Regions from separate parts of the Homo sapiens genome. Here regions 2, 3 and 4 are each linked to region 1. The links come from fine-mapping of genetic effects on gene expression. A gene starts in region 1. Each other region holds a variant in brackets. All regions are shown on one strand. Distances are between the middles of the regions.

Evidence for each region. PIP is the estimated chance that this variant, and not a neighbour inherited with it, causes the effect. A credible set is the group of variants that fine-mapping cannot tell apart.
Region 2: its variant is the best candidate, but not a certain one, in a credible set for the expression of PCDHA4 in lung (TOPMed, PIP 0.57).
Region 3: its variant is the best candidate, but not a certain one, in a credible set for the expression of PCDHA4 in iPS cells (PhLiPS, PIP 0.67).
Region 4: its variant is the best candidate, but not a certain one, in a credible set for the expression of PCDHA4 in iPS cells (iPSCORE, PIP 0.55).

Annotation. Positions count from the first base shown.
Region 1 is chr5:140,802,839-140,810,893 of GRCh38, forward strand. It overlaps PCDHA4 (protocadherin alpha 4), which reads left to right and starts at 4,230. Exons shown (of 4, transcript NM_018907.4): 1 at 4,230-6,734. The coding sequence starts at 4,350. The region is part of intron 1 of PCDHA1 (protocadherin alpha 1); the gene reads left to right. The region is part of intron 1 of PCDHA2 (protocadherin alpha 2); the gene reads left to right. It overlaps PCDHA3 (protocadherin alpha 3), which reads left to right. Exons shown (of 4, transcript NM_018906.3): 1 at 1-753. It also overlaps PCDHA@.
Region 2 is chr5:141,023,979-141,032,033 of GRCh38, forward strand. LOC124901090 (a long non-coding RNA gene) reads right to left here and starts at 2,566. Exons shown (of 2, transcript XR_007058970.1): 1 at 2,466-2,566. The variant G/A (reference allele first, on the strand shown) is at 4,610.
Region 3 is chr5:140,774,494-140,782,548 of GRCh38, forward strand. No RefSeq gene overlaps it. Among named protein-coding and RNA genes, the nearest start is that of PCDHA1, 7.6 kb to the right of the region's middle. The variant C/CTT (reference allele first, on the strand shown) is at 4,160.
Region 4 is chr5:140,838,833-140,846,887 of GRCh38, forward strand. All of the region lies in intron 1 of PCDHA1 (protocadherin alpha 1), which reads left to right. The region is part of intron 1 of PCDHA2 (protocadherin alpha 2); the gene reads left to right. The region is part of intron 1 of PCDHA3 (protocadherin alpha 3); the gene reads left to right. All of the region lies in intron 1 of PCDHA4 (protocadherin alpha 4), which reads left to right. It also overlaps PCDHA5, PCDHA6, PCDHA7, PCDHA8 and PCDHA@. The variant A/C (reference allele first, on the strand shown) is at 3,740.

The DNA of each region.
Region 1 (8,055 bases):
AACGTGACGCTGCAGGTGTTCGTGCTGGACGAGAACGACAACGCGCCGGCACTGCTGATGCCTCGGGTGGGTGGCATCGGTGGCGCAGTGAGCGAGCTGGTGCCGCGGTCAGTGGGTGCGGGCCACGTGGTAGCGAAGGTGCGCGCAGTGGATGCAGACTCAGGCTACAACGCGTGGCTTTCGTATGAGCTGCAGCCTGGGACCGGCGGTGCGCGCATCCCGTTTCGCGTGGGGCTGTACACGGGAGAGATCAGCACGACCCGTGCCCTGGACGAGGTGGACGCCCCGCGCCATCGCCTACTGGTGCTGGTGAAGGACCACGGTGAACCCTCATTGACCGCCACGGCCACTGTGCTGGTGTCGCTGGTGGAGAGTGGCCAGGCACCCAAGGCCTCGTCCCAGGCGTCCGCTGGCGCCACGGGCCCGGAAGCTGCACTGGTGGATGTCAACGTGTACTTGATCGTCGCCATCTGCGCGGTGTCCAGTCTGTTGGTGCTCACACTGCTGCTATATACTGCTCTGCGGTGCTCCGCGCCGCCAACCGAAGGCGACTGTGGGCCGGGCAAGCCCACGCTGGTGTGCTCCAGCGCGGTGGGGAGCTGGTCATACTCGCAGCAGAGGCAGCAGAGGGTGTGCTCTGGAGAGGGGTTGCCCAAGACCGACCTCATGGCTTTTAGCCCTAGCCTTCCTCCTTGTCCAATTAGCCGGGATAGAGAGGAGAAACAGGATGTGGACGTTGATCTCTCAGCCAAAGTGAGTAATTTTTATTTATTCTTTCCAAAATGTCTTTGTTTTTCATTCCTCAATGTTTCCACTCCTCTGGAAATACATTAATAGTTAAGTATGAATTATGTGATTCATAATTAGACTTTTCCAGTTTTGTGGTTTTGTGGTTAAAACGGTAAGATTTTTGTTGCTAATTTTTGAACCAAATCAGCAGTAAGTTATGATATCCACACTTGTAATTTTGTTTTGTTATTAGGTGCAGTAGTAGAATTATTTTATTGCTAAATGCCTGGGTATAAGACAAATATTTTTTCTTAGATGAATTGCATTATTTAGAGAATCTGACTTCGACTTGTTTTATACTTATCCCTATACAATGCTTCTTCAATATCTTTTGCCACTTTTCATTTGGACTTCCTACTACCTGTTAGTACAAATGTTACTTGCTCATTTTATGAGTTCACCTAATGCTTATAACTCCCTATTGATTATGCTTTTCCACCTTCAGTTTCAAAAATTAGATCATTACACCTGTTGTCTTTTATGGAACCTCTTTTATTCTCTTATTCACTTGTTTGGAGTCTCAATCCTTATTTTTTACTTGAATATGATTCATTTTAGGCCTTGTGCTCTAATTTGGCAATACCGTTTATTGTTTCTTGATTTCCCAGTTGGGAAAAAAATCGAGAATAACAATTGCATTTAGAATTGCATCTTTGTTCATCTTTAGTTTATCACTACTTTATTTAATACTACTTTAATAATACTACTGTATTATATGTTAAAATTTATTACTAATAACTAAAATATCAATATGAAGTGAAAATTTAATAGTTGTATAGTATATTTATATATTCATTTTAAAAGAATGTTTTAAATCTTGTTAAAAATAATTTTCAATCTGAACAATATCTTGAAAATAATTATGGTATCTAATTTTAAAACTATCCCTACTAGCAAAACTTTTTATTCATTAGTGTCTTTTGCATACCATACTAAGGATGCTAATATGAAATAAGTTTGATAAGCCAATGTTATAATGTTATTACTGGTTAACTTCTCTGAATAGCATCCTGCCTATTAATGTGTGCCATGCAATAAGTAGAAAACTCCAAATAACCAGAACCAAATGAAATTGAAGGTAGACTTTTTTCTAATCACTACCCCTACATATTTGGTTATCTCCTCTAGCAATTAGTTGGACTCCCATTTAAGTTTCCCTACCACTGGAGAGAAATAGTAACCAACTGAAACCTGGTTAATACTCATTGACAGTGTGGGAGGTCTAACACGTAAAATAGATATTTTTCTTGACTCCTCTCCTTCCCCTCACTTCCATTTTCTTTATTTCCTTTTTTGGCACTATCCTTTGTTGCTCCCTTGTCCATGAAGTAGTAGCCATAGTGTGTCCATCTCAGGTCAGTATTTTAAAAATTTAGTTCTGTTATCAGCTTCTTGAATATAATAGAGTCAGCCAAAGTACTTGTCTTCCCAGATATGGAACTTCAATCTTCAAATCCAGCTTGCCTCTTGAAACTATTGTCTAACAAGACTCTTGGCAAAGACATTTTGAAGACTTTGGAATTTTCACTTCACAGATGTACTGATGCTATGCCAAATAAATATTGAATAGCTACCAAATAAACATTGTTTTCTATTCTGCTGCATTCCCCATCTGTACATTAAAATACCTGGTAAATGAAAATATTACAAATGAAATGGGTGAAAATGGAATTCTTCCTCCTTTTTTCCAATGTGCTTGATGTCAATGATCATTTTGTAAAAATATAGTTTGGGTCCCCACATAGTGAAAGTACTCTGGTTTCTGTTTGATTCAGAAATTTGGTGGGTTTTTTGTTGTTGTTTTGGTTTTTGTGTGTGTGTGTTTGTGTGAGTGTAGTTCTTCAATAGAGAGGGAGCGTAAAGCTATTTTCACTAGATTGATTTTTTGTTTAGACAAACAGGATGAAAATAACTTTATGGATATAGGAGGCAAGGAAAGTTTTTAAATGGCTACCATTATGTCTTTATATATTAAATTTCTTTATGTAAGAAAATGTATTGTGGTTTATTTATTGGGAAGTCTTCATTCCCCATTAATACCCAGGATGATTCAAAGATCATGATTACCAAGAATTAGAATAAAAATTAAGCTAAAACCCAAGTTTTCAACATTGAACTTGAAATACATCTTAATTGGGGAAATGTCTAGAGACTTTTTTTGTATCTTTAGAAAATCATAGAGGCTATTGAAACACCACATTTTCCCAACTAGATATGCGATCACCTTAAATTAATGCATTTTATTAGGCAATGGAAGGAAGCAAACATTTTCTGCAGGGTAAATATTTAGGAAATATTAGGTAAGTCCCTCTGAGCTATTAAACAATTAAGATACAACTATTCCCTTTAAAATATATATTCCAAAAAAGGACACACATACTCAAATGCTTATAAGAGATAAATTAATGTAATAAATGGCCCACGCGATTCCACCCTGGTGCTGCAGTTTGTAAAAGAAGAAAAAATACCTGTTCAATTGGTTTGATCATGACATTCTTCATGGGTCAGGGAAGTTTTAAGTGGTTATAAAATGGGGTAAATTGGCTTTAGAAGAGTTTAGAAATGATGTGGATTACTTATAGACAGGACAAAATGAACATGCTTGTTTATTAAAAAAAGCTATTGGAAGCAGGAAATATTCAGTTTGGCTAAAATATATAAGCACTATAGGAGAAAATAGAAGCTTAGGCACATTACATACTGGAGAACAAGCAAGTACTTATAAACTGTAAGAGTCAAAATGAGAATACCAGCGTTTCTCATGGGAGCAAATGAGTTCCAATGAATAAAATTATTTGGAATGCTTTTCCATGCAAGCTATTTGCTATAACTTCCTGCTTCCTTGCACTTTCAGCCCTGACATGACTCAAGGAAGACATCTAATTAAATGCTGATGGTCTTTGATCCTTTTATAAAACATCTGCAAATTTCCCTGTCAATAGCTTGTTCTTGGCACCAGAAGTTCCCTAGAGACCAGTCCCCTCAAGTCAACAACACCAGAAATACTAGGGTGAAGAGGGTGTTATCATTAATAAAAAAAAACCCTGGAATTCTTGGGAACACAGGAATCTGTAATGAATTTTTCTAATCAACAGTTTACAGTTACATGTTTACAAAGTGTATAGTTAGGTCTCTGTAATACTTAAAACCTGTGTTGAAAAAATTATTTCTACTGAAGTAAAAGTTGCCCCTATGGCGAAACTAAGGACCACACTCAATCAATCAGTGGTACAATGTGTACCACAGTAGTACAAAATGTATTCCTATTCTCCGAAACGACTGAAATAATAAATAAAACCAAGTAGTTTACAGTAGAGTGTGTGGGGGTTTCCACAATTGCTACTTACGGTTTGGAGCCACATGATGTCGCTCTTTACCACAAAATACATGAGAGAAGGAGGAAGAAGGGAAAATTCCTTCTATTCTTACTGGAAGGAACCATATACACTCTTTGGAGTCTGAAATATGGAGGATGCAGCTGCACTTGACTGACCGATTAAAAGATTTCCCTTGACTTTGAGAAACGATATTTAATCAGAACAAAATACTGTGCACTAAAGATGGAGTTTTCCTGGGGAAGCGGCCAGGAATCCCGGCGTCTGCTGCTCTTACTTCTTCTCCTCGCAGCCTGGGAGGCAGGGAACGGTCAGCTCCACTACTCGGTCTCCGAGGAGGCCAAACACGGCACCTTCGTGGGCCGCATCGCGCAGGACCTGGGACTGGAGCTGGCGGAGCTGGTGCCGCGCCTGTTCCGGGTGGCGTCCAAGGGCCGCGGAGGCCTTCTGGAGGTAAATCTGCAGAATGGCATTTTGTTTGTGAATTCTCGGATCGACCGGGAGGAGCTGTGCCGGCGGAGCGCGGAGTGCAGCATCCACCTGGAGGTGATCGTAGACAGGCCGCTGCAGGTTTTCCATGTGGACGTGGAGGTGAGGGACATTAACGATAACCCGCCGGTGTTCCCAGCAACACAAAAGAACCTGTCCATCGCGGAATCCAGGCCGCTTGACTCTCGGTTTCCACTAGAGGGCGCCTCGGATGCAGATATCGGGGAGAACGCCCTGCTCACTTACAGACTGAGCCCAAATGAATACTTTTCTCTGGAAAAACCACCTGATGACGAGCTGGTAAAAGGTCTTGGGCTTATATTACGGAAATCTTTAGACAGAGAAGAAGCTCCGGAGATTTTTTTAGTGCTCACAGCCACTGATGGAGGCAAACCCGAGTTGACTGGCACCGTTCAGTTACTCATCACAGTACTGGATGCCAATGACAATGCCCCAGCTTTTGACAGAACCATTTATAAGGTGAGATTACTAGAAAATGTTCCTAATGGAACATTGGTAATTAAACTTAACGCCTCAGATTTAGACGAAGGATTGAATGGGGACATTGTTTATTCATTCTCAAATGATATTTCGCCAAATGTGAAATCCAAGTTTCACATAGATCCAATTACTGGACAAATTATTGTAAAGGGATATATTGACTTTGAAGAAAGCAAATCCTATGAAATTATTGTAGAGGGCATTGATAAGGGACAGCTCCCACTTTCTGGCCATTGTAGAGTTATTGTGGAAGTAGAAGACAACAACGATAATGTCCCAGATTTGGAATTCAAGTCTTTATCACTTCCAATTAGAGAGGACGCTCCACTGGGTACAGTCATCGCCCTGATCAGCGTGTCCGACAAAGACATGGGTGTCAATGGGCTGGTCACCTGCTCCTTGACGTCCCACGTCCCCTTCAAGCTGGTGTCCACCTTCAAGAATTACTACTCGTTGGTGCTGGACAGTGCCCTGGACCGCGAGAGCGTGTCAGCCTATGAGCTGGTGGTGACCGCGCGAGACGGGGGCTCGCCTTCGCTGTGGGCCACGGCCAGTGTTTCTGTGGAGGTGGCTGATGTGAACGACAACGCTCCGGCGTTCGCGCAGCCCGAGTACACAGTGTTCGTGAAGGAGAACAACCCGCCGGGCTGCCACATCTTCACTGTGTCTGCGTGGGACGCGGACGCGCAGGAGAACGCGCTGGTGTCCTACTCGCTGGTAGAGCGGCGGGTAGGGGAGCGCGCGCTGTCGAGCTACGTTTCGGTGCATGCGGAGAGCGGCAAGGTGTACGCGCTGCAGCCGCTGGACCACGAGGAGCTAGAGCTGCTGCAGTTTCAGGTGACCGCTCGCGATGCCGGCGTGCCACCTCTGGGCAGCAACGTGACGCTGCAGGTGTTCGTGCTGGACGAAAACGACAACGCGCCAGCACTGCTAGCGCCTCGGGCGGGTGGCACTGGTGGCGCAGTGAGCGAGCTGGTGCCATGGTCGGTGGGTGTGGGCCACGTGGTGGCAAAGGTGCGCGCGGTGGATGCTGACTCGGGCTACAACGCGTGGCTTTCGTACGAGCTGCAGCCGGGGACTGGTGGCGCGCGCATCCCGTTCCGCGTGGGGCTGTACACTGGCGAGATCAGCACAACGCGTGCCCTGGACGAAACGGACGCTCCGCGCCACCGCCTACTGGTACTGGTGAAGGACCACGGCGAGCCCGCGCTGACGGCCACGGCCACTGTGCTGGTGTCACTTGTGGAGAGTGGACAGGCGCCAAAGGCCTCCTCACGGGCGTTGGTGGGCGCTGTGGGTCCCGATGCTGCGCTGGTGGATGTCAACGTATACCTGATCATTGCCATCTGCGCGGTGTCCAGCCTTTTGGTGCTCACGCTGCTGCTGTACACCGCGCTGCGGTGCTCTGCGCTGCCCACCGAGGGCGCGTGCGCTCCGGGCAAGCCCACGCTGGTGTGCTCCAGTGCGGTGGGGAGCTGGTCATACTCGCAGCAGAGGAGGCCGAGGGTGTGCTCTGGTGAGGGCCCACCCAAGACCGACCTCATGGCCTTCAGCCCCAGTTTACCTGACTCTAGGGACAGAGAAGATCAGCTGCAGACAACTGAGGAATCCTTTGCAAAGGTTAGTGTATAACATCCTTTTGTTTAATTTTCGTATTGTTTTTCTCTATCAACTTCTTCGTAAATTTATTTCTAAGAGTCAAATTTCCCTGGGTTAAAATTTTACCTCTTTTTACATATCCATTTTAACTAAAGTCTTTTGGAATTATAGGACATCAGAGCAATATATATTGCCTTCCTTCATTTTATGCTGCATTATTCAATGCATATTAACAGAACTGTAATTTCTAGTAAATTTTCACTATATTCACCCTCTTTGTTTTTGGTAATAATCAACATTTTAGAAAACATTTTACTATTATTTAACCTATTACATATAAACAAATGTGCACAGGCTGAAATAATAAAGCTCCATAAATTGTATGAAAGTGAAAAGCTCCGTTGCCTCCATCGCTGAAGCCCCTCGCATGCACCTGCCAAATCACTTCCCTTATTTTTCCTCCAGTGTAACCGCACATTTGCCTTTTATAACTGTTTGTTCGGGGCCTGTTTTGGGAACGTTATCTAATTGGACTTGCACAACATGTATTGTCTGTGCATTTGTGTGTTATTTGTATTTATCACTCATTGTTTATGAAATTATCCATGTTGTTATATGTAGTTGTAGTTTATTTATTTCTGTTTCTAGTACTATTTCATAAATATACTATACCTTATTTATTCTACTGTTCAGGAATTTGCATTGTGCCTCAATGTCTATTTCAAATAATGCCATCATAAATATATTGTACATTTCTTTGATGCCCATGTACACAGATTTCTCTCAGGTTTTTGCCTAAGAGTTGTGTTTGTGGGTCACAGAATATGTGTGTATCTTTGTCTTTTGTAGCTAACACCAACCAATTTTCCAAGATGTTTTTACCTGTTTACATTCCTAGTAGTGCATAAGGCTTTCTGCTGGGCCACATCATCTCTACATTTGTCAGGTTATTTTCATGTTAGCCATTTTACTGGGTGACTTTTGTAATCTCATTTTGAAATTATTTTATATTTAAATGAAGTTGAGTACCTTTCTATTTTATTTTGGCAATTTTTATACCTTATTTTGTGCAATAGCTGCTCAAATCTCCTATTTCTCTAGTCTGTTGTTTTTCTTTTCTTTTTTCTCTTCTTTTTGCTTCCATAGAACTTTATTTATTTCCTTATCTTGTTTTTCTTATTACTTAAACAAATCTTGTATTCTGAACATAACTCCTTTTTTTAGTAGTTTTCAACCTCATGGCTAGTTTTTAATTCTTTTTTGTCTTTTGGTGAATAGAAAGTCATAATTTTGATTAAACTCAATTTATCAATTTTTGCTTCTGATCCTATTTCACAAAGAT
Region 2 (8,055 bases), 220 kb after region 1:
AACATAATACATACCTTTAATACTACTGAACTATACATTTAAAAATGGTTAAGATGGTTAATGTTATGTGTATTTTACTACAATAAAATATTGAAAAAAATTATATGCCAAAATAAATTCAAGAGGAAGTAAAACACATACACCAGGAGACAGAAAGAGAAAGAGAGAGAGAGAGAGAAATAATATAACTATTAAGAGCAAATGTGGTGTAGCAGTTAGGATTAGTTTAGGTTAGCGTATTTTTAAAATATTCAAAATAAAAGTGACTTAAATATGGTAGCAATTATATTCCTCTCATAAAAAGAAGCCTGGACGTAGGGAGTCAGGGCTGTGGAGGTAGCTTTACTGTGACATTAAGGATCTAGGATCATATCTTCTATTCTGCCCCCTTAGCCTGGAACATTGGCAAGGTCTCTCATAGTTCAATATGGCTGCTAGATCCAGCCGTTTCAGGAGCAGGAACAAGAGAAGGAAGTCTTTTAAGGTTTCCCAGAATTCCCACCCCACATTTCTGTTTATTTCTCACTGGCCAAAAGAAGACAACAAAAATTACATGCTCACATGGTCACAACCTGATGCAAGGATGTGACCCATTAGAAATAAGCATTCTGTATCTAAAGAGGGCAGAATATTGGAGTTATAGCCTCTGCAACAAAATGGGTGAATTTTAAAATGTGGCACATATACACCATGGAATACTATGCAGCCATAAAAAATGATGAGTTCATGTCCTTTGTAGGGACATGGATGAAATTGGAAATCATCATTCTCAGTAAACTATCGCAAGGACAAAAAAACAAACACCGCACGTTCTCACTCATAGGTGGGAATTGAACAATGAGAACACATGGACACAAGAAGGGGAACATCACACTCTGGGAACTGTTCTGGGGTGGGGGGACGGGGGAGGGATAGCATTAGGAGATATACCTAATGCTAAATGACGAGTTAATGGGTGCAGCACACCAGCATGGCACATGTATACATATGTAACTAACCTGCACATTGTGCACATGTACCCTAAAACTTAAAGTATAATAATAATAAAAAATAAATTTAAAAAAAGGTTAATTTACCGAAAAAAAAAATCTCAAAGTGGGGAAAGATTTTATAAGAATAACAGAATACTAAGAAGTTATAGAAGAGAAAATATTTATTTTGCATATATAATTTTAAAAATTGCATTAAAAAATCACCATGAACTAAGTCAAAAGACAAAATATATTGTTATTTATATCATAGAAGAGGACTAATTTCTATACATATAAGTAATTCCTACAAATTAATAAGAAAAAGCACAAAGAAATATAAAATAACAGCAAATGGCCAAAAAGAAGTAAATGCTCAAAAGGGTTAAATAAGATAAATCAAAATATATTATATATTATAAATATTTATTACATACCTATCTAATATATTATGTTTATATTAGAAATCTTTATTAGAAATATAAAAATAAAACACGTTTGACAGTCCTTTAGAAACTAACAGTCTAAAAATGAATTCAACTGCCTAGAAATGGGAAAAGTATACTTTAAAGAAACAAAAAACAAAATTTCCTGTGTGCGGTGGCTCATGCCTATAATCCCAGCACTTTGAGAGGCCAAGGCGGGTGGATCAATTGAGGCCAGGAGTTCAGGACCAGCCTGGGAAACATGGGAAAAACCCTCTCTACTGAAAATACATAAATTAGCTGGGCGTGGTGGCCTGCACCTGTAATCCCAGCTACTCGGGAGGCTGAGGCACAAGAATCGTGTGAACCTGGGAGGCAGAGGTTGCAGTAAGCCAAGATCGCGCCACTGCACTCCAGCCTGAGTGAGAGAGTAAGACCCTGTCTCAAAAAAAAGAAAAATTATTTGGAAAACATTAAATAAACCCAGTCCAGTTTATAAGACCTATATACACTAGAGCAGTGGTTATTAGTCCTGGCTAAACCTAGAATTACAGATACAGTTGCCAGATTTAACAAACGAAAACATAAGATGTCCAGTTAAATTTAAATTTCAAATAAATAGCAAATAACTTTTTAGTTTAAGTATGTCTCATGCAATATCTCCTATACAATATTTGGGACATACTTATATGAAAATATTATTTGTTTTCTCTAAAATTTACATCTAACTGATGTTTTACACTTTATCTGACAATGCCTGGGCTCTACTACAAGCCAAATAAATCAGAATCTCTGGGGTTGTGGCCTGGGCATTGTTTTGAAAAACTCCCCAGGTTAGAATCACTCGATGCATAGCTAGGATTGAGAACCACTGCTCTAGAAAATGATAATTTTAGATGATTAATTAGGGTAAATTGGCATCAGGAGAATTGACTTTAGGTGAATTGGTATCAAGGTGAACTAAATTCCTGTCATCATCTTAGCATGTTATTTAACAAAAGCTTGTTCATCCCTCTAGGTCCATATATCATGTCCTTCTAGGAACCTAATCCATTTTGTAATCATTACTTACAAGGTCCCACTTTGAATTTGGCATCTGCCTCTGGCTGCCTTCTTTGCATAAGTGAGGTCTCTTCTGAGAGCAGTTTGCTTGTCTTGCATGTTAGCCAACGCCTGGAATTGAAGATGTGAACATGCTTATCTTGAAGGTTAAAGTTGAAGCGCCCTGGTTTCGAATCAGCAATGACTCGGAAGTCCCTTTTAATGCTTTCAGGCAGTTTTATTTTTCACTTGCATAGATGAGGAAATTGTAGGTAAGAATAATTTGATGAGTTTTAGGTGTTACGGACATAACCAAAGGCAAATTCAAGTATCTTAACCCTTAATAAATTAAGTTGGTTTAAGAAAAGATATTATGGTGAAAGTCTCCAATTTTGGTAAGTGTTGTTTATAAAAACAGGTAGACAAACTTACATCTCCAGACTTCTTTCAAAACAAAATGTCACCTTAGAGCACTTCTTTCTTCTTCTGTGCAGCTAAAGTGCTATCTGTCTCCTCATCAGTTCCAAATGACCAATGTGGCAGAGAAGAATGGGCTGTTATTTGATGCCAAATTGAATCTGCAGAGACTCAGTGAACTAGGACCAGAGAATTATTACAGTGACTCAATATGTGTGTGTCTATTTGTGATTTTTAACATTGATAGTAGCAAGGCTTACTTTTAATTTCCTCTTAAATATTAGGCTGTTTCAAAATGTCCACAGTTACTGATTAGGCCATTGTGTTTCTGATCTTGGTGATAAAAAGTAGCGAATTTTTAAACTTAAAAAAAAAATTCATTTGGGAGGTTCTAACTGAACTTTCCATATTTCAAGAGTACCCATCCTAGCCACAGGAAAACATGAATATTCTTCAGCTCAGAGCTAAATTTTAGTCATGCTTATCGCCCTTTGGTTTTCTCAGGCCACTGCCCCATGTGAGAGCTAGCAGCATCAGCAGCACAACTATCATCCCAATATTCTGATCATCTGAGAAGCAAGGGCTTCAGGAATGGATTTGTTTTCAAAAAGCGTACAAAGCCAGAAACTTGATTCCTCCATTTATGGATAATATCCAGGACAGATGGAAAGAAACACACCAGACAGCAAATGCCCTTGTCTCTGGTCTCCATATCTGCATTGGCACAGGTCAAACACAGTCTCTATGTGGCCCTGGGCTTAAAGGAAAACATCAGTTTTAGCTAAGCGAGAGCCCCAGAATTCAGTATATTTGTGACACGATCCAAATCCTTCACCCCCAACTTATAGCCTTACCATCACTATGTGACCATCAACATTAAGGTCGTGGTTTATGCCAGTTTCCAAAAGTTCAGAACTCCCCGACCATCTCCTTTCACTCAGAGAGTAAATCCCATGTTGTTCTGTAGATTTTTTTTACGCTATTTCTATCTTTCCTTAACTCCTGAAGCCTTTGTATTATGCCCTGTGGTCAGTCATTAGCAAAATTCCCTATGTTTGCAGCCTCTTTTCTGAAAATTTGCTGTCTTTGTTTAAACCGAACACTGGTTCTCCCTAAGGAGATTATTTCCATTATTCTTCTCAAAATGTAGCTGTGATTTTTCCTTAGCCTTTAATCCCACTGGGCCTAGAAGTAAGAAATTATCTTCCCTGCTCCTTCCAGATCATCCTACCACTTGCCACTTCTGTATCACCCTACCTTGCCCCCCACCTTGCCACTTCCAGATCTCCCTATCTCCCTTCTGCCTAACAACATTCAGCTTAGAATCTCATGCGGTCAAATTTTAACACCCACTACCTCTCCTTGTAGCAGTCATCTCCTGATCCCATGTCACTCACTGTCATTTCTTGATGATTTTACCTGCTGGCTCAATATCTTCTCTAGTACTATTCTAAACATAATACTTGGTGATTTCAATATCCACATAGATGTTTCTTCTAACAGCCTACCTTCTCCATTCCTTGACCTTCTCTCCTTGAATTACCCAGTGCTCTACTGACCTCAGCTACCTACTCCCATCTAAGGTCAAATATCTTTATGTTATCAGTGACTGCAACACTTTCCTAATTTCTAAGTATCAATTTCAAGCATCAAACTTTCTAATTGCCCCCTACAATTTTCCCAGCTTACTCCCTCTAAGACCCGAAAATAATGCCAACCATTCCAATACATAAAATCTATTAGTCCTACCATCTTTTC[G/A]TCATCCCTACCACCTTCATGTCCTAATTCTTTTTATCCAGTGAAAAGTCTGGGGTCAATCATTATAATCACTGCATTTTATATACCTTAAAATCCATGATCCTCCCTCACTTTAATATACTTGCTTATAAAAATCCGAAGCTTCATAAATCAAAAACTAGATTTATAAATTCAAAGACTTGTAAACCTAAAACTTTGCCCACATCAGGCTTGTATTCACATATGTTAATGTAGCAGGAGAAAAACATCACAATATTGCTAGCTGTTCTTATTTTATATTTGTGATTACAAATCTCAAGTGGCCCTTAACGTTGTCTGGCAATTATATAGTATTTTCCTAGCCCATTTACTCTCTCGTCTGCATCCATCCTACCTTGACCAATTCCTACATTCTGATGTCTTTCCAACTTTCAGCACTCCTCCCACTCCTCCATCAGTAGAGCATCTAACTTCAAATAAATTTGATAAATGAAGTGATCAGAGGAGCTGCCCATAAGTCTTATCTCATTGACCTACTGACCTGCCTTTGTTCTCTTGTACTGTATGTTATGTTCTGTGACTACTAGATGAACTCCCTGTGTCATGTACTCAAGGACATTGCTTTCTACCACCACTGTATTATCAATTTTCTCTTTCCTACTGGATCTTTCCCATCACCATACAAGCATGTTGTTATTTCTCACATCTTAAAGTAACTATTTATTGACCTCGTTTTTCCTTCCAGCTACTGCACATTTCTCTCTTCTTTATACAAAAAATTCCTTGAAAGTGTTCCCTATACTGACTATCTCCAATTTCTCCTCTAATTTCTGTTTTATAGTTTAAAAATTATTACATTATATTATATTATATTATGTTATATTATATTATATTATATTATATTATATTATATTATATTATATTTTTGAGACAGAGTCTTGCTCTGTTGCCCAGGCTGGAGTGCAGTGGTGTGATCTTGGCTTACTGCAACTTCTACCTCTCGGGTTCAAGTGATTCTTATGCCTCAGCCTCCCAGGTAGCTGGGATTACGGGTGCACGCCACCATGTCCGGCTTATTTTCGTATTTTTAGTAGAGATGAGGTTTCACCATGTTGGCCAAGCTGGTCTTGAACTCCTGGCCTCAAGTGATCCACCTGCCTGAGCCTCCTAAATTGCTGGGATTACAGGGGTGAGCCACTGCAACCGGCCCAAGTTTTAAGATAATTATATTTAAACAATTAGTACTCATAGCTACTTGGCTGTAGGTTCAAATGACTTCATTTGAAACCACTATTCTTCATTTTAGAAATTAGTACTTGGCCTGAAAAGATCATTGCAATGCTCAATTTTATTTATTTTAAAAAGTTCAAACCTATAGAAAAGTCAACAGAATAGTAAAATAAACCTCTATACTCCTTTCATCAAGATTCACCATTTAACATTGGCCACATTTACTTCTCTCTTTCTCTCTCCCTTAACCTTTCCTTCCCTGTCTCCCTTTCTGTCCTTCACTCTCTTCCTTCCTCTCTGTGTAATTTTTGGTGTATCATTTCAAAGTATGTTTTAGACATGACACATCACTGCTAAATAAAGCAGCATACACTTCCTAAGAATACGACATTCTCCTACATAATCATGATGGCATTTTCTTTTTTATTTATGTTTCATTTATTTATTTATTTAAGACAGAGTCTCACTCTGTCGCCCAGGCTGGAGTGCAGTGGCGTGATCTCAGCTCACTGCAACCTCAGCTTCCCAGGTTCAAGTAATTCTCCTGCCTCAGCCTCCCAAGTAGCTGAGATTATAGGCGCCCGCAACCATGCCTGGCTAATTTTTGTAGTTTTTTAGTAGAGAGGGGGTTTCACTATGTTGGCCAGGCTGGTCTTGAACTCCCCACCTCAGATGATCCGCCCGCCTTGGCCTCCCAAAGTGCTGGGATTAGAGGTGTGAGCCACCGTGCCCGGCCTGTATTTGATTTTTTTCTAGATTCTCCATATAAGTGAGATCATGCAGTATTTCTCCTTCTGTGTCTGGCTTATTTCACTTAGTATAATATCCCATAGTTTCATCCATGTTGTTGTAAATGGCAGTGTCTCCTTCTTAGGATGGCTATTATCAAATAGACAAGAGATAGCAAGTGTTGGTAAGAATTTAGAGAAAAAGGGACACTTGTACACTGCTGGTGGGAATATAAATTGGTATAGCCATTAAAGAAAATGGTATGGATATTCCTCAAAAAATTAAAAATAGAACTACCATATGACCCAGCAATTCTTCTCCTGGATGTATACCTAAAGAAAATAAAATCATAACCTCATAGAGATATCTGCACTCCCATGTTCATTGCAGCATTACTCACAGAGCCAAAGTATGGAAACAACTCAATTGTCCATTGGCTGATGAACAAACAAAGAAATGGTGATACAAATATATGCCATGGGATATTATTCAGCCTTAAAAAGGAGATACTGCCTGAAGTGTAATTTTTAGAATTGCTTTAGTGTATGGTCTGTTGGTGGCAAACTCGTTTTTTGGGGTCTGAAAATGTCTTTATTTCATATTTGCTTTTGAGGTTTTTTTTGAGATGGAGTTTGGCTCTTATTGCCCCGGCTGGAGTGCGATGGCGCGATCTCGGCTCACGGCAATCTCCGCCCACGGGAATCTCCGCCTCCCGGGTTCAGGCGATTTTCCTGCCTCAGCCTCCCAAATAACTGGAATTACAGGCATGCACCACCACGGCCGGCTAATTTTGTATTTTTAGTAGAGACGGGGTTTCTCCATGTTTATGCTAGGCTTTGAATTCTAGATTAACTTTATTTTATATCAGAACATTGACAATATCATTCCATTGTCTTCACGTTCCTCTTTTGCTGCTGAGTTCATTCTCAGTCTGTCACTACTTTATTTACTATTTATTTATTTATTTATTTTTGAGACAAAGTCTCACTCTGTCACCCAGGCTGGAGTTCAGTGGTGCAATCTCTCTGCTCACTGCAACCTTCACCTCCCAGGCTCAAACGATTCTCCTGCCTTAGCCTTCCAAGTAGCTGGGATTACAGGCACTGGCCACCACACCTGGCTAATCTTTGTATTTTTGGTAGAGACAGGGTTTCACCATGTTGGCCAGGCTGGTCTTGAACTCGTGACCTCAAGCGATCCACCCACCTTGGCCTCCCAAAATGTTGGGATTACAGGCATGAGCCACAGCGTCCATCCTATTTTTTAAATTTTTTAAAAAAATTTACCTTTCCTATGGTGCTGAAGTCTGTCACCACTTTAAGAAATCTCTCTTCTATATCTATTTTAAGATAATCTTTCTCATTTTCACTGTCCTGCAATTATACTATGCTATATGTATGTGATTATTTGTTTTTATCTTATATGAGATTCATTTGGTTTCTGAATTTGTGATTTGGTATTATGAAAAATTCTAATTAATTATCTCTTTAAATGTTGCTTCTACTCCT
Region 3 (8,055 bases), 28 kb before region 1:
CCTATGTCCTGAATGGTGTTGCTTATATTTTCTTCTAGGGTTTTTATGGTTTTGGGTTTTATATTTAAGTCTTTAATCCATATTGAGTTAATTTTTATATAAGGTGTAAGGAAGGGGTCCAGTTTCAATTTTCTGCATATGACCAGCCAGTTTTCCCAGCACTATTAATTAAGTAGGGAATTCTTTTCCAATTGCTTGTTTTTGTCAAGTTTGTTAAAGGTCAGATGGTTGTAAATGTGTGGTCTTATTTCTGAGATCTCTATTCTGTTCCATTGGTCTATGTGTCTGTTTTGGTACCAGTACCATGCTGTTTTGGTTACTGTAGCCTTGTAGTATAGTTTGAAGTCAGGTAGCGTGATGCCTCCAGCTTTGTTCTTTTTGCTTAGAATTGTCTTGGCTATATGGGCTCTTTTTTTGTTCCATACGAATTTTAAAGTCATTTTTTCTAATTCTGTGAAGAATGTCAATGGTAGTTTGATGGAAATAACATTGACTCTATAAATTACTTTGGGCGGTGTGGCCATTTTCATGATATTGATTATTCCTATTCATGAGGATGGAATGTTTTTCCATTTGTTGTGTCCTATCTTATTTCCTTGAGCAGTGGTTTGTAGTTCTCCTTGACGAGGTCCTTCACATCTTTTGTTAGCTGTATTCCTAGGTATTTTATTCTCTTTGTAGCAATTGTGAATGGGAGTTCATTCATGATTTGGCTCTCTGCTTGTCTATTGTTGGTGTACAGGAATGCTTGTGATTTTTGCACATTGATTTTGTGTCCTGAGACTTTGCTGAAGTTGCTTATCAGCTTAAGGAGCTTTTGGGCTGAGACAATGGGTTTTTCTAGATATAGGATCATGTTGTCTGCAAACAGAGGCAATTTGACTTCCTCTTTTCCTATTTGAATACCCGTTATTTCTTTCTCTTGCCTGATTGCCCTGGCCAGAACTTCCAATACTATGTTGAATAGGAGTGGTGAGAGAGGGCATCTTTGTCTTGTGCTGCTTTTCAAGGGAAGTGCTTCTGGGTTTTGCCCATTCTGTATGATATTGGCTATGGGTTTGTCGTAAATGGCTCTTACTATTTTGAGATATGTTCCATCAATACCTAGTTTATTGATTGTTTTTAACATGAAAGGATGTTGAATTTTATCAAAGGCTTTTTCGGCATCTTTTGAGATAATCTTGTGGTTTTTGTCATTAGTTCCGTTTATGTGATGAATTATGTTTATTAATTTGCGTATGTTGAACCAGCCTTGCATCCCAGGGATGAAGCAGACTTGATCATGGTGGATAAACTTTTTGATGTGCTGCTGGATTCAGTTTGACAGTATTTTATTGAGGATTTTTGCATCAGTGTTCATCAGGGATACTGGCCTGAAGTTTTCCTTTTTTGTTGTATCTCTGCCAGGTTTTGGTATCAGGATGGTACCTCTGTCCAGTTCTGTGCACTTGCTGGAGAAGTGTTGTGATCATTTGGAGAAGAGGCACTCTGGCCTTTTGAGTTTTCAGCATTTTTCAGCCACAGCCTGTATACTGCACTGTGGGGATTACCTCTTGGAACCAAGCTGTCCTGTCTCTCCGGCTCCAGGAGGGGAAAAATGTGGTCTAGAGCTATAGTGATGGCTGCCACCCTCCCCGCTACCCCCAGTTCAGTGTCAGGTAGCAGTGTACTTAGCTAGCAGCTGGAGTAATGTTTGCCTTCCCTCCCGCAGGGAGCTCAGTTTTCTTAGGCAGCTAGCAACCACAGTGATGAGGGCCGCCCCCACCTCAGGGAGCTCAGTTGTCTTAGGCAGCTGACAGCCGCAGTGATGGCTGCCATCTCTCCCCCTGGAAGCTCAGATGGCTTAGACAGCAGGCAGCTGCAGTGATGATGGCGGCTTCTCCTCCGGGAACTCATTACCTTTAGGCAGATTCCAGCAAGAGTGGCTGTTGAGAGTCTGTGCAGCTCTGTGGTTGGGACCCAAGGCCCTGGTAGTATGGGCTCACGAGTGGAATCTTCCGATCTGTGGGTTGCGCAGATCTGTGGAAAAAGCACGGTTTCCCAGGCAAGATAGCATACTCATTCACCACCTTCCTTGGTTGGGGGTGGGGTTTGCCCTTTCTCCATGTGGGCCGACGCAGCACCCTGCTTTTTCTTGCTCTTTATGGGTCACACCAACTGCCTAGTCAGTCCTGATGATAAAACCTGGATACCTCGATTGCCAGTGCAGGATTGACATGCTGTTTTGTTTCTTCTCAATTGGAGCCTCTAACTGCTGCTGCTTCTAGTTAGCCATCTTGGTCCCGCCAAGCTCAAGACATTTTTATAAGGGATGATACCAGCCATTTAGTCCGTCTCTAAAGAGCTGATGGTCCTAAGAATTTAACCATGTCAATGAAGAATTGTTTACATTATTAACTGAAGGAAAATGGATGCTCTTTAAAGATTTTTTAAGATTGGGAAATAAAGAAAAGTCAGAAATAATCACACTGGGGCAGGGCATGGTGGCCCACACTTGTAATCCCAGAACTGTGGGAAGCAGAGGCAGGTGGATCACTTGAGGTCAGGAGTTTGAGACCAGCCTGGCCAACGTGGTGAAAACCCATCTCTATTAAAATATAAAAATTACCTGGGCAAGATGGCACACACCTGTAATCCCAGCTACTCAGGAGGCTGAAGCAGGAGAATCACATGAACCTGGGAGGTGGAGGTTGCGGTGAGCCAAGATCGTGCCACTGCACTCCAGCCTGGGCGACAGAGTGAGACCCTGTCTCGAAAAAAAAGAAAAAGAAAAAAAAGAAATAACCAAACTGGGACTGTATGGTGGATGCCCAGTGATTTTACATGTCAGAATTCTTGTGAAATTGCCCTTGTTGAGAGGAATGAACATGAGCGTTGTTGTGGTGGAGAAGAACTCTATAGTAAAGCTTTCCTGGTTATTTTTCTGCTAAAGCTTGGCTTTCTTAAAACGTTCTCTGGCCCTCCAGAAAGTCAACAAGCAAAATACCTTTAAGATCTGCAAAACCTGTTGTCATGACCTTTGCTTTTTGTGTGTGTTGGGACCTTTGCTTTTGACCAGCCAGCTTTTACTTTGACTAGACAATTTACACCTCTTGATAGCATTGCTTTGATTGTGCTTTGTCTTCAAGATCATACTGCTAAAGCCATGTTTCATCTCCCGTTACAATTCTCCAAAGAAAGTATTCAGAATCTTGATCCCATTGTTTAAAATTTCCATGGAAACTCAGCTCTTATCTGCAGCTGATCTGGGTGCAATTTGGCACCCATTGAGCAGAAATTTGCTCAACTTTAATTTTTTAGTCAGAATTGTGTAAGCTGAACCATCTGGGATGTCTATGGTATTTCCTAGTGTATCTGCTGTTAATCATTGGCCCTGTTCAATTACGGTATGAACAGGACTAATTTGTTTCTTATAAAATGATATGGATAGCCTGTCACTACAGGCTTTATCTCCAACATCATCTTATCCCTTCTTAAAACAAGTTATTCATTTGTACACTACTTATTTCTTTGAGGCATTGTCCTCATAAACTTTTCATAAAGTGTCAATGATTTCATTATTCTTCCACCCAAGCTTCACCATAAATCTGATGTTTGTTCTTGCTTCAATTTTAGTGAATTCATGTTGCTCTAATCGGGAGTCTTTTCAAACGGAAGTCCTATCCTTCTTTGTGGCTTAAACTAGATCCTGCTCAGACATGTTATAACAAGTTAATACAAGTTTATTATGATGCAAACTTTATTTAAATTCATGCATATTTTTTCATAGTACGCATTTTTCATGAACTTTTTGAAGACCTCTTGTATTTTCTGGGAGAGATTAGTATTGGTGTTATTTTTTAAATTAAATTTTTTTTACCTCATACCATGTATTTTTTTTTATTCCTTTGAGACATCGTCTTTGGCCCATGGATTATTTAGAGATACGTTAACATCCAAGTGTTAGAATATTTTTCTTTTATCTTTATGTTATTGATTTCTCCTTTGATTCCATTGTGGTCACAGAACACACTCTGTATGATTTCATGTCTTTTACATTTACTGAGGCTTGTTTTATGACTCAGGGCAAGATGTGTTTTGAGATATGTTTCACTGGCACTTGGAAGAGTGTATTTTGAAATTTTTTTTTTTTGAGATGATGGAGTCTCTCTCTCTCTCT[C/CTT]TCTTTTTTTTTTTTGAGACAGAGTCTCACTCTGTTGCCCAGGCTGGAGTGCAGTGGCATGATCTTGGCTCTTGGCTCACTGCAACCTCCACCTCCCGGGCTCAAGTGATTCTCCTGCCTCAGCCTCCCAAGCAGCTGGGACTACAGGCATGCACCACCACACCTGGCTAATTTTTGTATTTTTAGTAGAGACAGGGTTTCACCATGTTGGCCAGGCTGATCTCGAACTCCTGACCTCAAGTGATCTGCTTGCCTCAGTGTCTCAAAGTGCTGGGATTACAGGTGTGAGCCACTGTGCTCAGCCCGTGATTGTTGAATAGTGTGTTCTATAAATGTCAATTAGTTTCCATTGGTTAGTGATGTTACTGAGTTCTTCTATATTCTTGCTGATTTTCTTTTTAGTTGTTCTGTTATTTGTTGAGAGAGAATTGTTGAAGTCTCCAATTATAATTGTGGATTTATCTGTTTCTCCTTTTAGTTCTATGAGATTTTGTTTCACAGCTCTGTTGTTTGGTGCATACACATTTAGGGTTGCCATGTCTTTTTGGTGGATTGACTCCTTATCATTTATAATTTTCCTCTCTCTCTCTCTCTCTTTTTTTTTGAGACAGGGTCTCACTCTGTCATCCGGACTGGAGTGCAGTGGTGTGATCTCGGCTCACTGCAACCTCCACCTCTCAGGATCAAGTGATTTTCCTGCCTCAGCCTCCCAAGTAGCTAGGATTACAAGCGCGCACCACTACCGCCAGGCTCATTTTTGTATTTTTAGTAGAGAGGGGATTTCATCACGTTGGCCGGGCTGGTCTTGAACTCCTGACCACAAATGATCCACCCGCCTTGGCCTCCCAAGTTGCTGGGATTACATGCATGAGCCACCGCTCCTGGCCTGATTTTCCTCTATATACCGGTAGTTATCTTTGTCTTGAACTCTATTTGATAGATGCTTCTGCTTTCCTTTGATCACTTCTGACTAAAAAATTAAAGTTGAGCAAATTTCTCCTCAATGGGTCCAAAACCATTGCACCTAGATCAGCTGCAGATGAGAACTGAGTTTCCATGGAAATTTTAAACAATGGGATCAAGATTCTGAATACTTTCTTTGGAGAACTGTAACAGGAGATGACACATGGCTTTAGCAGTATGATCTTGAAGACAAAGCACAATCAAAGCAATGCTACCAAGAGGTGCAAATGGCCTAGTCAAAGTAAAAGCAGGCTGGTCAAAAGCAAAGGTCCCAACACACACAAAAAGCAAAGGTCATGGCAACAGGTTTTGGGGATGCTCAAGACATTTTGCTTGTTGATATAGCTTTTACATTTTTAATTTTAATCTCCCTGTATTTTTATATTTCAAGTGAGATACTCATAGGCAGCATGTAATTGGGTCTTTTTTTGATTCACTTAGTCAGTTTTTTTTTCTCTTTCTTTTTCTTTTCTTTTCTTTCTTTCTTTTTTTTTTTTGAGACAGGGTTTTGCTCTGTCACTCAGGCTAGAGTGCAGTGATATGGTGTTGGCTCACTGCAGCCTTGATCTCTCAGGCTCAAGTGATCCTCCCACCTCACCCTCCTAAGTAACTGAGAGTACAGGTGCATGCCACCATGTCCAGCTAATTTTGTTTATTTTTTGTAGAGACAAGGTCTTACTATGTTGCCTAGGTTGGTCTTGAACCCCTGGGCTCAAGAAATCCTCCCACTTTGGCCTTCCAAAATGTTGGAATTACAGGCACAAGCCTCTACACCTAGCCTAAGATTTTTTCTTTTTCATTTATTTTCAAAAGTTTGCCTGTTATATGCCTTGGTGTGGAGTCTTTGGAGTTCACTCACCTCTCTATATTGTTTATCAAATTTGGGAACTTTTTAGCCATTTTTTGAGTTATTTTTAGCCTTGTCTCCTTTGCCTTTTCTTTCAGTACTCCACTGACATGAATGTTGGAGCTTTTGTTAAGTTCCCACATGTCCCCAAGGTACTGTTCTTTTTTATTCTTTTAGTCTATTTTGTTGCTGTTTTTCAAATTGCGTAATTTTTATTTATTTACTTATTTGTTATGTTTTTAGAGATGGGGTCATGCTCTGTTGCCCTGGCTGGAGTGCAGTGGCATGATCATACTGCACCATAACCTCAAACTCCTGGGCTTAAGCAATCCTCCCACCTTCACCTCCCAAAGTGCTGTGATTACAGGTGTGAGCCACTGTGCCCTGCCCAGATTCAGTATTTTCTATTTTTCTTTTAGTTTCCTTATTCTCTTTTTTGACCACTCCATTCTTCTATTTGGGTTTTTATTTTGGTTATTGTACTTTTTTCCAAAATTTTCATTTGGTTCTTTTCATCATCTATTTATTTGCTGAGACTTTCTGTTTCATTGCTGAGGGTTTCTATTTTTTTATTCGTTTCAAGCATATTTGCAATTGCTCATTGAAGCATTTTCATGGTGACTGCTTTAAAATTTTTATCACAGAATTCTAACAGCTCTTTCATCTCATTGTTGGCATTGGTATGTTATTTTTTAAATTTAATTTATCTTCTTGGTTATTGGAATAATGAGTAATTTCTTCATATTGAAACTTGAACATTTTTATATCATGTTTTGAGACTCTAGAGCTTACTTATTCTATTTTAGCTAGTTTCTCCTGACACTGTTCTGTCAGAGAGAGCATTGGCACTACCTCATTACTGTCACTTGAAGATAAAGCCCAAGTTTCCCATAGGCCTACATTGACAAATGCATGGACATGTCCTCTATACTTCTAGGTGGGGTGGAAGTTTTGGCCCCACCATGTGTTCTCCATAGACACTAAGGTAGAGATGCCCTTGTTATCACATGGTGAAAGGTCTTGGCTCTCCACTAAAACCTCCTCTGACATCACCTGATATGGTTTGGATATTTGTCCTCTTCAAATCTCATGTTGAATTGTGATGCCTAATGTTGGAGTTGAGGCTATCAGGAGGTGTTTGGGTCATAAGAGTGCATCCCTCATGAATGACTTGGTGCTATTCTTGGGGTAGTGAGTGAGCTCCCACTCTGTGAGTTCACACAAGATCTAGTTGCTTAAAAGAGTGTGGTATCTCCTTCCTTTTCCTCTTGCTCTCTCTCTAATCATGTGATATGCTGGTTTTCCCTTCGTGTTCAGCCATGATTGGCAGCTTCCTGAGGCCTTCACCAGAAGCAGATGCCAACACCCTGCTTCCTGTACAGCATGCAGGACCATGAGGCAAATAAACCTCCTTTCTTTATAGATTACCCAGTCTCAGATATTACTTCATAGCAACACAAAATGAACTAATACAGAAAATTGGTACCAAAGACTGGGGTGTTCCTATAAAGATATCTGAAGATGTGGAAGCAGCTTTGGAGCTGGGTAACGGGCTGAGATTGGAAGAATCTGGAGGTCTCAGAAAAGACAGGAAGATGAGGGAAAGTTTGGAACTTCTTAGAGACTTGTTAAGTGGTTGTGACAAAAATGCTGATAGAACTATGGATAGCAAAGGCCAAGCTGATGAGTTCTCAGATGGAAATTAGGAATTTATTGGGAACTGGAGCAAAGGTCACTCTTGTTATGCCTTAGCAAAGAACTTGGCTGCATTGTGTCAATGTCCTGGGGATTTATGGAGGGTTGAACTTAAGTATGATTACCTAGGATATCCAGTGGAAGAAATTTCTTTCTTCTTTTTTTTTTTTTTTTTTTTTAAGGCGGAGTCTCGCTCTCTAGCAGGCTGGAGTGCAGTGGCACAATCTCGGCTCACTGCAAGCTCCATCTCCCGGGTTCATGACATTCTTCTGTCTCAGCCTCCCGAGTAGCTGGGACTACAGGTGCCTGCCACCACGGCTGGCTAATTTTTTTTTTTTGTATTTTTTTAGTAGAGACAGAGTTTCACCGTGTTAGCCAGGATGGTCTCGAT
Region 4 (8,055 bases), 36 kb after region 1:
GATCACTTAAGCCAGGGAGGTCCAAGCTGCAGTTATCATGCCACTGAACTCCAGCCTAGGTGACAGAGCAATACCTTGCCTCAAAAATAAAATAAAATGAAATAATAAAATAAAATAAAATAAAAACCCAGAACTGACAATTTTCACTGTTCCTAATATTCTAATATACTTTAGTAAATTATTTTAGGATATGTTACTGTTTTCTTTTCAACGTGAATAAGGATAGAGGTATGCAAAGTCAAAAACCTGTCTGATAATCAATAGAATTATTTACCATTAAGCCATAATATGTCATTCACATAAGCAGACCAAGTTTGCTGCTCTTGTTGAAAGATATTCAGTTTTGTGGAAAAATCTATAAATATCTTTGACCTTCAAAGATGTAACTGTAATCTGTTTTTATTGCTTTGCTTTTATGCTTACATGCATGTATATTTAAAACCTTCCTAGCATATTATTAAAGTTTTAAATATCCTATTTATATTGGGAAATACCTGAAGTTGATAGGGGATCCTCCTTAGCCACCTAAGCTGTATTCATCAATTATTATGATGATGATGATGATTATTATTTTTGAGACAGGGTCTCACTCTGTAGCCCAGACTGCAGTGCAGTGGCACAATCTGGGCTTACTGCAATCTCTGCCTCCTGGGCTCAAGTGATCTTCCTACCTCAGCCTCTCAAGTTGCTGGGACTATAGGCACACACCACCATGCCCAACTAATTTTTGTATTTTTTGTAGAGATGGGGTCTTACCATGTTGCCCAGGCTGGTCTCAAACTCCTGAGATATCGAGAAATACTATTTTCTTTACAAATTGTTTGCTACTATTTAGAGTCAACTACAGAGATTTTTTTGGGTAAATAATGTGATGACAAATTTAAATCATTTCACAGAAAATACCCTTATTTGCCTTTCCTATTTAACCTACGTTTTTGGTAAGAATTTTGTAGAAATTTGGAGGAGCTCTTAATTGCCTACTATGAAGGCATTCATGATGAATCCATGGAGAATTTACTTTTGAGGTGGACTTTGAAAGATGAATAGAATTTTGACAGAAAAAGATGAAGTAATAGAAGAAAAACCTTGAACAAAGAGTGTGCCAAGAAGGAGACAACATATTTTCTGTAAAATATGACTCCTATTGGAAAGTGGTTAGCCTTAGCACTGAGAAGATTGGCTCATGGTCACGTAGCGTATCTCCCAGATGGAAGTCTAATGTCTTGACAATTAGTCAATAGAAAGATAAACTTGTTGAAGATTTTAGTGAAATCGAGTGAAAGCTGTACTAATAAGGACAGAAATTATCACACGTGAAAGGAGAGATGGGATGTATACAAATTTTAAATATGGTAGGCAAAGGAAAAGAAGTCATAAAAATACATATGAGTAAATGTGGAGAATCACTATGCTATAAAAATTGTGATTTTTTAATGATTTGGGTTTTGGGTGATTATTGATTAGATATTCTTTTAACTTTGGTCGACTCATTTTCTAGGCAATGTTAGGGTATACAGGTAAAAATGTCAGGTAGAAAATGAAAATAGGGGGTTGCAGATATGGAGTTAAGAATACTTCAAATAATAGGCTAGTTTAAAGCCGTGGAAATAGAAACGTTAAATAAAAAGTTGGGGAAAAAAGTTTAAAGGCATAATTCTGGTAAATACTCACTTTTTGGAGCAGAAGAAAGATGAAGAACTAACAAGCCAATGATGGCAATACTGCTAGAGTTTGGCATGTCAGAGAAATCATAAAGGAAAATGTTTTAAGTGAGAGGCTGAATTTAACAAGCTATAGAGATATAGAGAAATAGTGTAAAGAATATGCACATACATTTTTATTACTTTAGTAAATAAAACGGTTCAGGCAATTTGACATTTATTGAATAAAGAAAAGCAAAAATTTAACAATAAGAACACAAGAAGATAAAATGTAGAAAAGTTAGAATTATATGCTCACCTCAGAGTAATATATACCAGTGTTTCTGGTGACCAAATAAATATTAATGCATTTCTTCCACACGAAACTATGGAGGACAGTTTACATTTCTGATATCCATGACATACAGGTCATACTTAAATTTATTATTAATTGATACGATATTTGAAATATTGGGAAGAAATTCCTTTCCTTATGAAGAAGAAATCCCTAGCTGAAACTAATGTAAGGAGCCAGACAGTATGAATGCCTCTGCAATTGATAAAGTTAAGGATTTACTATTAAATTATGATAAAGAAATAGAAAGTGCATAGAAGAACCCAGATATTGCGGAAGTAATTCATGTAATCATTACCTTTTGAAGCCACATGATGTCGCTGTCTACCAAGAAGTTCTGGTTGGTCAATGTTCAAAGTCTTTTCTCTGACAGCATCTGTCTCTAAAGGCCGAACAACGGGAGATGCAGCGGAATTGGATTAAAAGACTCTGAAAGTACAGTCGTTCATCTTTATATTAAGATAATATTTTCTGATAGGAAACGACTATTTAACATGGATTATCACTGGCGAGGAGAGCTGGGATCCTGGCGACTACTACTCTTGCTTCTGCTCCTCGCAGCCTGGAAGGTGGGGAGCGGCCAGCTCCACTACTCCGTCCCCGAGGAGGCCAAACACGGCACCTTCGTGGGCCGGATCGCGCAGGACCTGGGGCTGGAGCTGGCGGAGCTGGTGCCGCGCCTGTTCCGGGTGGCGTCCAAAAGACACCGGGACCTTCTGGAGGTAAGTCTGCAGAATGGCATTTTGTTTGTGAATTCTCGGATCGACCGCGAGGAGCTGTGCGGGCGGAGCGCGGAGTGCAGCATCCACCTGGAGGTGATCGTGGACAGGCCGCTGCAGGTTTTCCATGTGGACGTGGAGGTGAAGGATGTTAATGACAACCCGCCAGTGTTCCGGGTAAAAGACCAAAAGCTGTTTGTTTCAGAATCCAGAATGCCAGACTCTCGGTTTCCGCTAGAGGGCGCGTCCGATGCAGATGTTGGAGCTAACTCCGTGTTAACCTACAGGCTTAGCTCTCATGATTACTTCATGCTAGATGTGAATTCAAAGAACGATGAGAATAAACTGGTTGAGCTCGTATTAAGAAAATCCTTGGACAGAGAGGACGCTCCTGCGCACCACTTATTCCTGACAGCCACAGATGGGGGCAAACCTGAGCTCACAGGCACTGTTCAGCTGCTGGTCACAGTGCTGGATGTGAATGATAATGCTCCCACTTTCGAACAGTCTGAATACGAAGTAAGAATATTCGAAAACGCAGACAACGGAACAACAGTTATCAAACTGAATGCTTCTGATCCGGATGAAGGAGCCAATGGGGCAATTTCATATTCTTTTAATAGCCTTGTTGAAACTATGGTTATTGACCACTTTAGCATAGATCGAAATACGGGAGAAATAGTGATTCGGGGTAATTTGGATTTTGAACAAGAAAACTTATACAAAATCCTCATTGACGCCACGGACAAAGGCCATCCTCCCATGGCGGGTCATTGCACCGTTTTAGTGAGAATTTTGGATAAAAATGATAACGTCCCTGAGATAGCACTGACTTCCTTATCCTTGCCTGTACGTGAAGACGCTCAATTTGGTACTGTCATCGCCCTAATTAGCGTGAACGACCTCGATTCAGGTGCCAACGGGCAGGTGACCTGCTCCCTGATGCCCCATGTCCCCTTCAAGCTGGTGTCCACCTTCAAGAATTACTACTCGTTGGTGCTGGACAGCGCCCTGGACCGCGAGAG[A/C]GTGTCGGCCTATGAGTTGGTGGTAACCGCGCGGGACGGGGGCTCGCCTTCGCTGTGGGCCACCGCCAGCTTGTCTGTGGAGGTGGCCGACGTGAACGACAATGCTCCGGCGTTCGCGCAGCCCGAGTACACGGTGTTCGTGAAGGAGAACAACCCGCCGGGCTGCCACATCTTCACGGTGTCTGCGCGAGACGCGGACGCGCAGGAGAACGCGCTGGTGTCCTACTCGCTTGTGGAGCGGCGGGTGGGCGAGCGCTCGCTGTCGAGCTACATTTCGGTGCACACGGAGAGCGGCAAGGTGTACGCGCTGCAGCCGCTGGACCACGAGGAGCTAGAGCTGCTGCAGTTCCAGGTGAGCGCGCGCGACGCGGGCGTGCCGCCTCTGGGCAGCAACGTGACGCTGCAGGTGTTCGTGCTGGACGAGAATGACAACGCGCCGGCACTGCTGGAGCCTCGGGTGGGTGGCACTGGTGGCGCAGCGAGCAAGCTGGTGCCGCGGTCTGTGGGCGCGGGCCACGTGGTAGCGAAGGTGCGCGCAGTGGACGCCGACTCGGGCTACAACGCGTGGCTTTCGTATGAGCTGCAGCCAGCTGCAAGCAGCCCTCGCATCCCGTTCCGCGTGGGGCTGTACACGGGCGAGATCAGCACCACTCGTGTCCTGGACGAAGCGGACTCTCCGCGCCACCGTCTGCTGGTCCTGGTGAAGGATCATGGTGAACCTGCGCTGACCGCCACGGCCACGGTTCTGGTGTCGCTGGTGGAGAGCGGCCAGGCTCCAAAAGCGTCATCGAGGCAGTCGGCTGGCGTTTTGGGTCCGGAAGCGGCGCTGGTGGATGTCAACGTGTACCTGATCATCGCCATCTGCGCGGTATCCAGCCTGCTGGTGCTCACGCTGCTGCTGTACACTGCGCTGCGGTGCTCAGCACTGCCCACTGAGGGCGGGTGCCGGGCGGGCAAGCCCACTCTGGTGTGCTCCAGTGCGGTGGGGAGCTGGTCATACTCGCAACAACAGCCGCAGAGGGTGTGCTCTGGTGAGGGGCCACCGAAGACGGACCTCATGGCCTTCAGCCCCTGCCTTCCTCCTGATCTGGGATCAGTTGATGTAGGCGAAGAGCAAGATTTAAATGTTGATCATGGCCTCAAAGTAAGTCCATTTAAATTTAGAACTCATAAATTCTATTTGTGGAAATTGTAGTTACTTTAAAAGTGTTTCAGATTTAGTTTTTCACCGTATTTTATAGTGAAAATTTAAACATTGTTTAGTTTTTAGAAACCTTTTATAATTAATTGAATTTTCTCAGTGGCATAATACAGTATTAATCATTCTCCACAAGTTGGGTCTATCTTGAAACTCAAGTTATGGTTGGATGATATCCATTTTTTACTGAATATTTATTTTGGCCTGCCTTACAGCCGTCTTCTCTGAACAATACTCTAAGGACGTTCAGGGCATTTTGATCTTTGGTGAAAGTATTCCCCCAAAGCGTTTATTCTTTTGTCCTTAGGCACTGAACTCTTAATCTTACTCCATATGCTGTACTTTGAAATGCATGTTTTAAATATGTTGTCTTTATATTTACTTTTATTCACTTTAAGATCTCGGTTTATTCATCTTATCTGACTTTTTAGTGTCTGGTAGTCACAAATATCTTTGGTGTTTCACTATTGCCGTTTTAAGCAGTGTAGTGATAAAATACAGAATGATAGTGTTTTTCAAAATTTGATAGTTTTCATATTCTTCCTAATTTTATTATAAACTAGTTAAAAAGTAAAATCAAGAGGGAAGAGATTTGTAATCCTTCTTTTAATTCATTATTTAGACCATTTTACCATTTGGAGACATGTTTTTTATTCTACATGATTTTTACAGTTGTATTGTCGCCAACTTAACATTTTTTGAGCCTCTATGTTTAGGAAATGATTACTTTATTCTTGCAAGTATCTTCTAAACTCTAATCATTCAACCCTTTGTTCATGAGTTGGAATATTTTCAATAATATTCCACATTAAAGTGATATTTAATATATGACTTAGAAAAATGTTTTCATCAGAAAAACTATACATGATAATTTCATTCTTGCAAACCAAACATATAATTTATAAATCCTTATTATACAGAATATTTGGGATTATCATGGCCCATTAGTTCGTGTAAAAATATTTAGTATTATGGGATAAATCTTTGAAAAATCCAAGATACTTTATTTTGGTATCTTTCAACATTTTCTTTCTTTTATTTCTTCTTGTCTTTTTACACGTTTGCTTCTTGTGACTGTTGGACCTGCCTGGATATTAAATACCCATTAGACTTCGTGCATATTGCTTTGGAGAGAATGGTAGAAATTGATGGAAGGGAATGAACGATTTCTGGGACTCTGAATTCTTACAGTTTGTTATTAGTATTGTTTTAAATCTTTTAATCACTTATGAACAAATAATGTAATCATTTATGGGCATATTTTAGCCCCCTTGTCCAACTGAAGGTAACCTCAAAGCAGCATTGTTTTGTAGTTTATTTTACAGTTCTCTTAATGCCTGTCCATGTTTAGCATTTTATTTGACTATTTGAACACATTGTGTAAAAGCGAATTGTTTTCATTTTAGTCCTTTAAAAAATATGATTGTTTTCATTTAAGTCCTTTTAAAAAATATGATTATCTTTATTATCCTGTTTGAATAATATGTGTTTTCCTTTGTGAAAGTAATATTTCCTATCCTGTCTATGTCTACCTGGTTCTCAGGTATTACTTTAATTACTGAATTCTCCTAAACATTTAATTGACTTTTACAAAATATCATAAATAGGAGGATTCTTTCCACCACCTAGCATTGTATTTGGCAATTTATCATTTAAGTCATTTTAGTTCTGTTTTTCTTCAACTCTCTGATATTTGAATTTGGGGTTGTGCTTTCACAGTGAGAAAGTCTAAACCTATTTCTTGTACATTAATACTTTTCACTATTCTAATTATGGTGATGCTTTTAGCTATTAAGAATTTCTGGGATTGAAATGTGTCAGAAGTTAGTTATTAAGTATTGTGGATTCTGAAGCTCTCTAAATCAAGTCCTCCCTTTACCAATTTTTGTATGTGTAGCCATTGGTAAAGGATTTGTTATTCAGTTCCTTGGCATTATATGTATGCATGATAAATGTGAATTCTACTTTATAGATTTATTTGTATCAAGTAAGTTAATAGTTATAAATTATTAATAATAAACTCTGGCAAGTGATAGGTACATAATAAAATTTAGTTATTACCATTCTTAAGAGAAAAGAAGTTAGTGATTGCAGAAAGGCAACCTAAAATGTCAGAAAGTCGTTATGGCCTTCCATATTAATCTTATTTTTGTGTAAAACTATCTTCTGTAAAGTCATTTTTTAGATTAACCTAGGATGTTTCAATATTTTGAATGTTGTGTGGTGGAATGAAAAAAATCTAAAAGTTATTACGAGTTTAGGAAAGTCAAGTTAACACCACCTATGTGGGAAAACAGTTTTTTGGAAAGGTTAAAGTCCTTCCAAGGAATGTGTAGACTATCTTACTTTGATAGTTGTATGTTTCCCATATTTAAAAGTTGCCTGAGATCCTGCAGAGGCCTGAGTAGGCGTTTGAGTTCTTTGTATGTATGAGATCTTTCCATTAATAGTATTTTTCTTAAAAAGAAGTATACAATAATGTTTTGATGATGATTTAAAGTCAATTTATGTTGTAGTTCTATGAATTAAGTAAACCATTTATGTAGAGTGTTGTAAATAGCCTTTTAAAGTGCTTTCTCTTTTTTCTTTTCTTTTCTTTCTTTCTTTTTTTTTTTTTTTTTTTGAGACGGAGTCTCGCTCTATCTCCCAGGCTGGAATGCAGTGGCGCAATCTCGGCTCACTGCAACCTCTGCCTCCCGGGTTCAAATGATTCTCCTTCCTCAGCCTCCCAAGTAGCTGGGATTACAGGTGCATGCCACCATGCCCTGCTAATTTTTTGTATTTTTAGTAGAGTCGGGGTTTCACCATGTTAGCCAGGATGGTCTCGATCTCCTGACCTCCTGATCCGCCCACTTCGGCCTCCTAAAGTGCTGGGATTACAGGCATGAGCCACCGCGCCCAGCCTAAAATGCTTTCTTAGCAAGTAGAGAAGATTGTAATAACCAGTCTTCATTAAACATTAAATAGGACCCTTACAGATCTCTAACAGCATATCATCATGTCAGGAATTATTACTGAGCCCCAGCCCCTGGCTTTAAAATTTGAGGTCAAATAAAGAATATGAGTCACACAATGCAAGGCAAGATAATGTAACAGGTACAAGAGGTAAATCAGAATG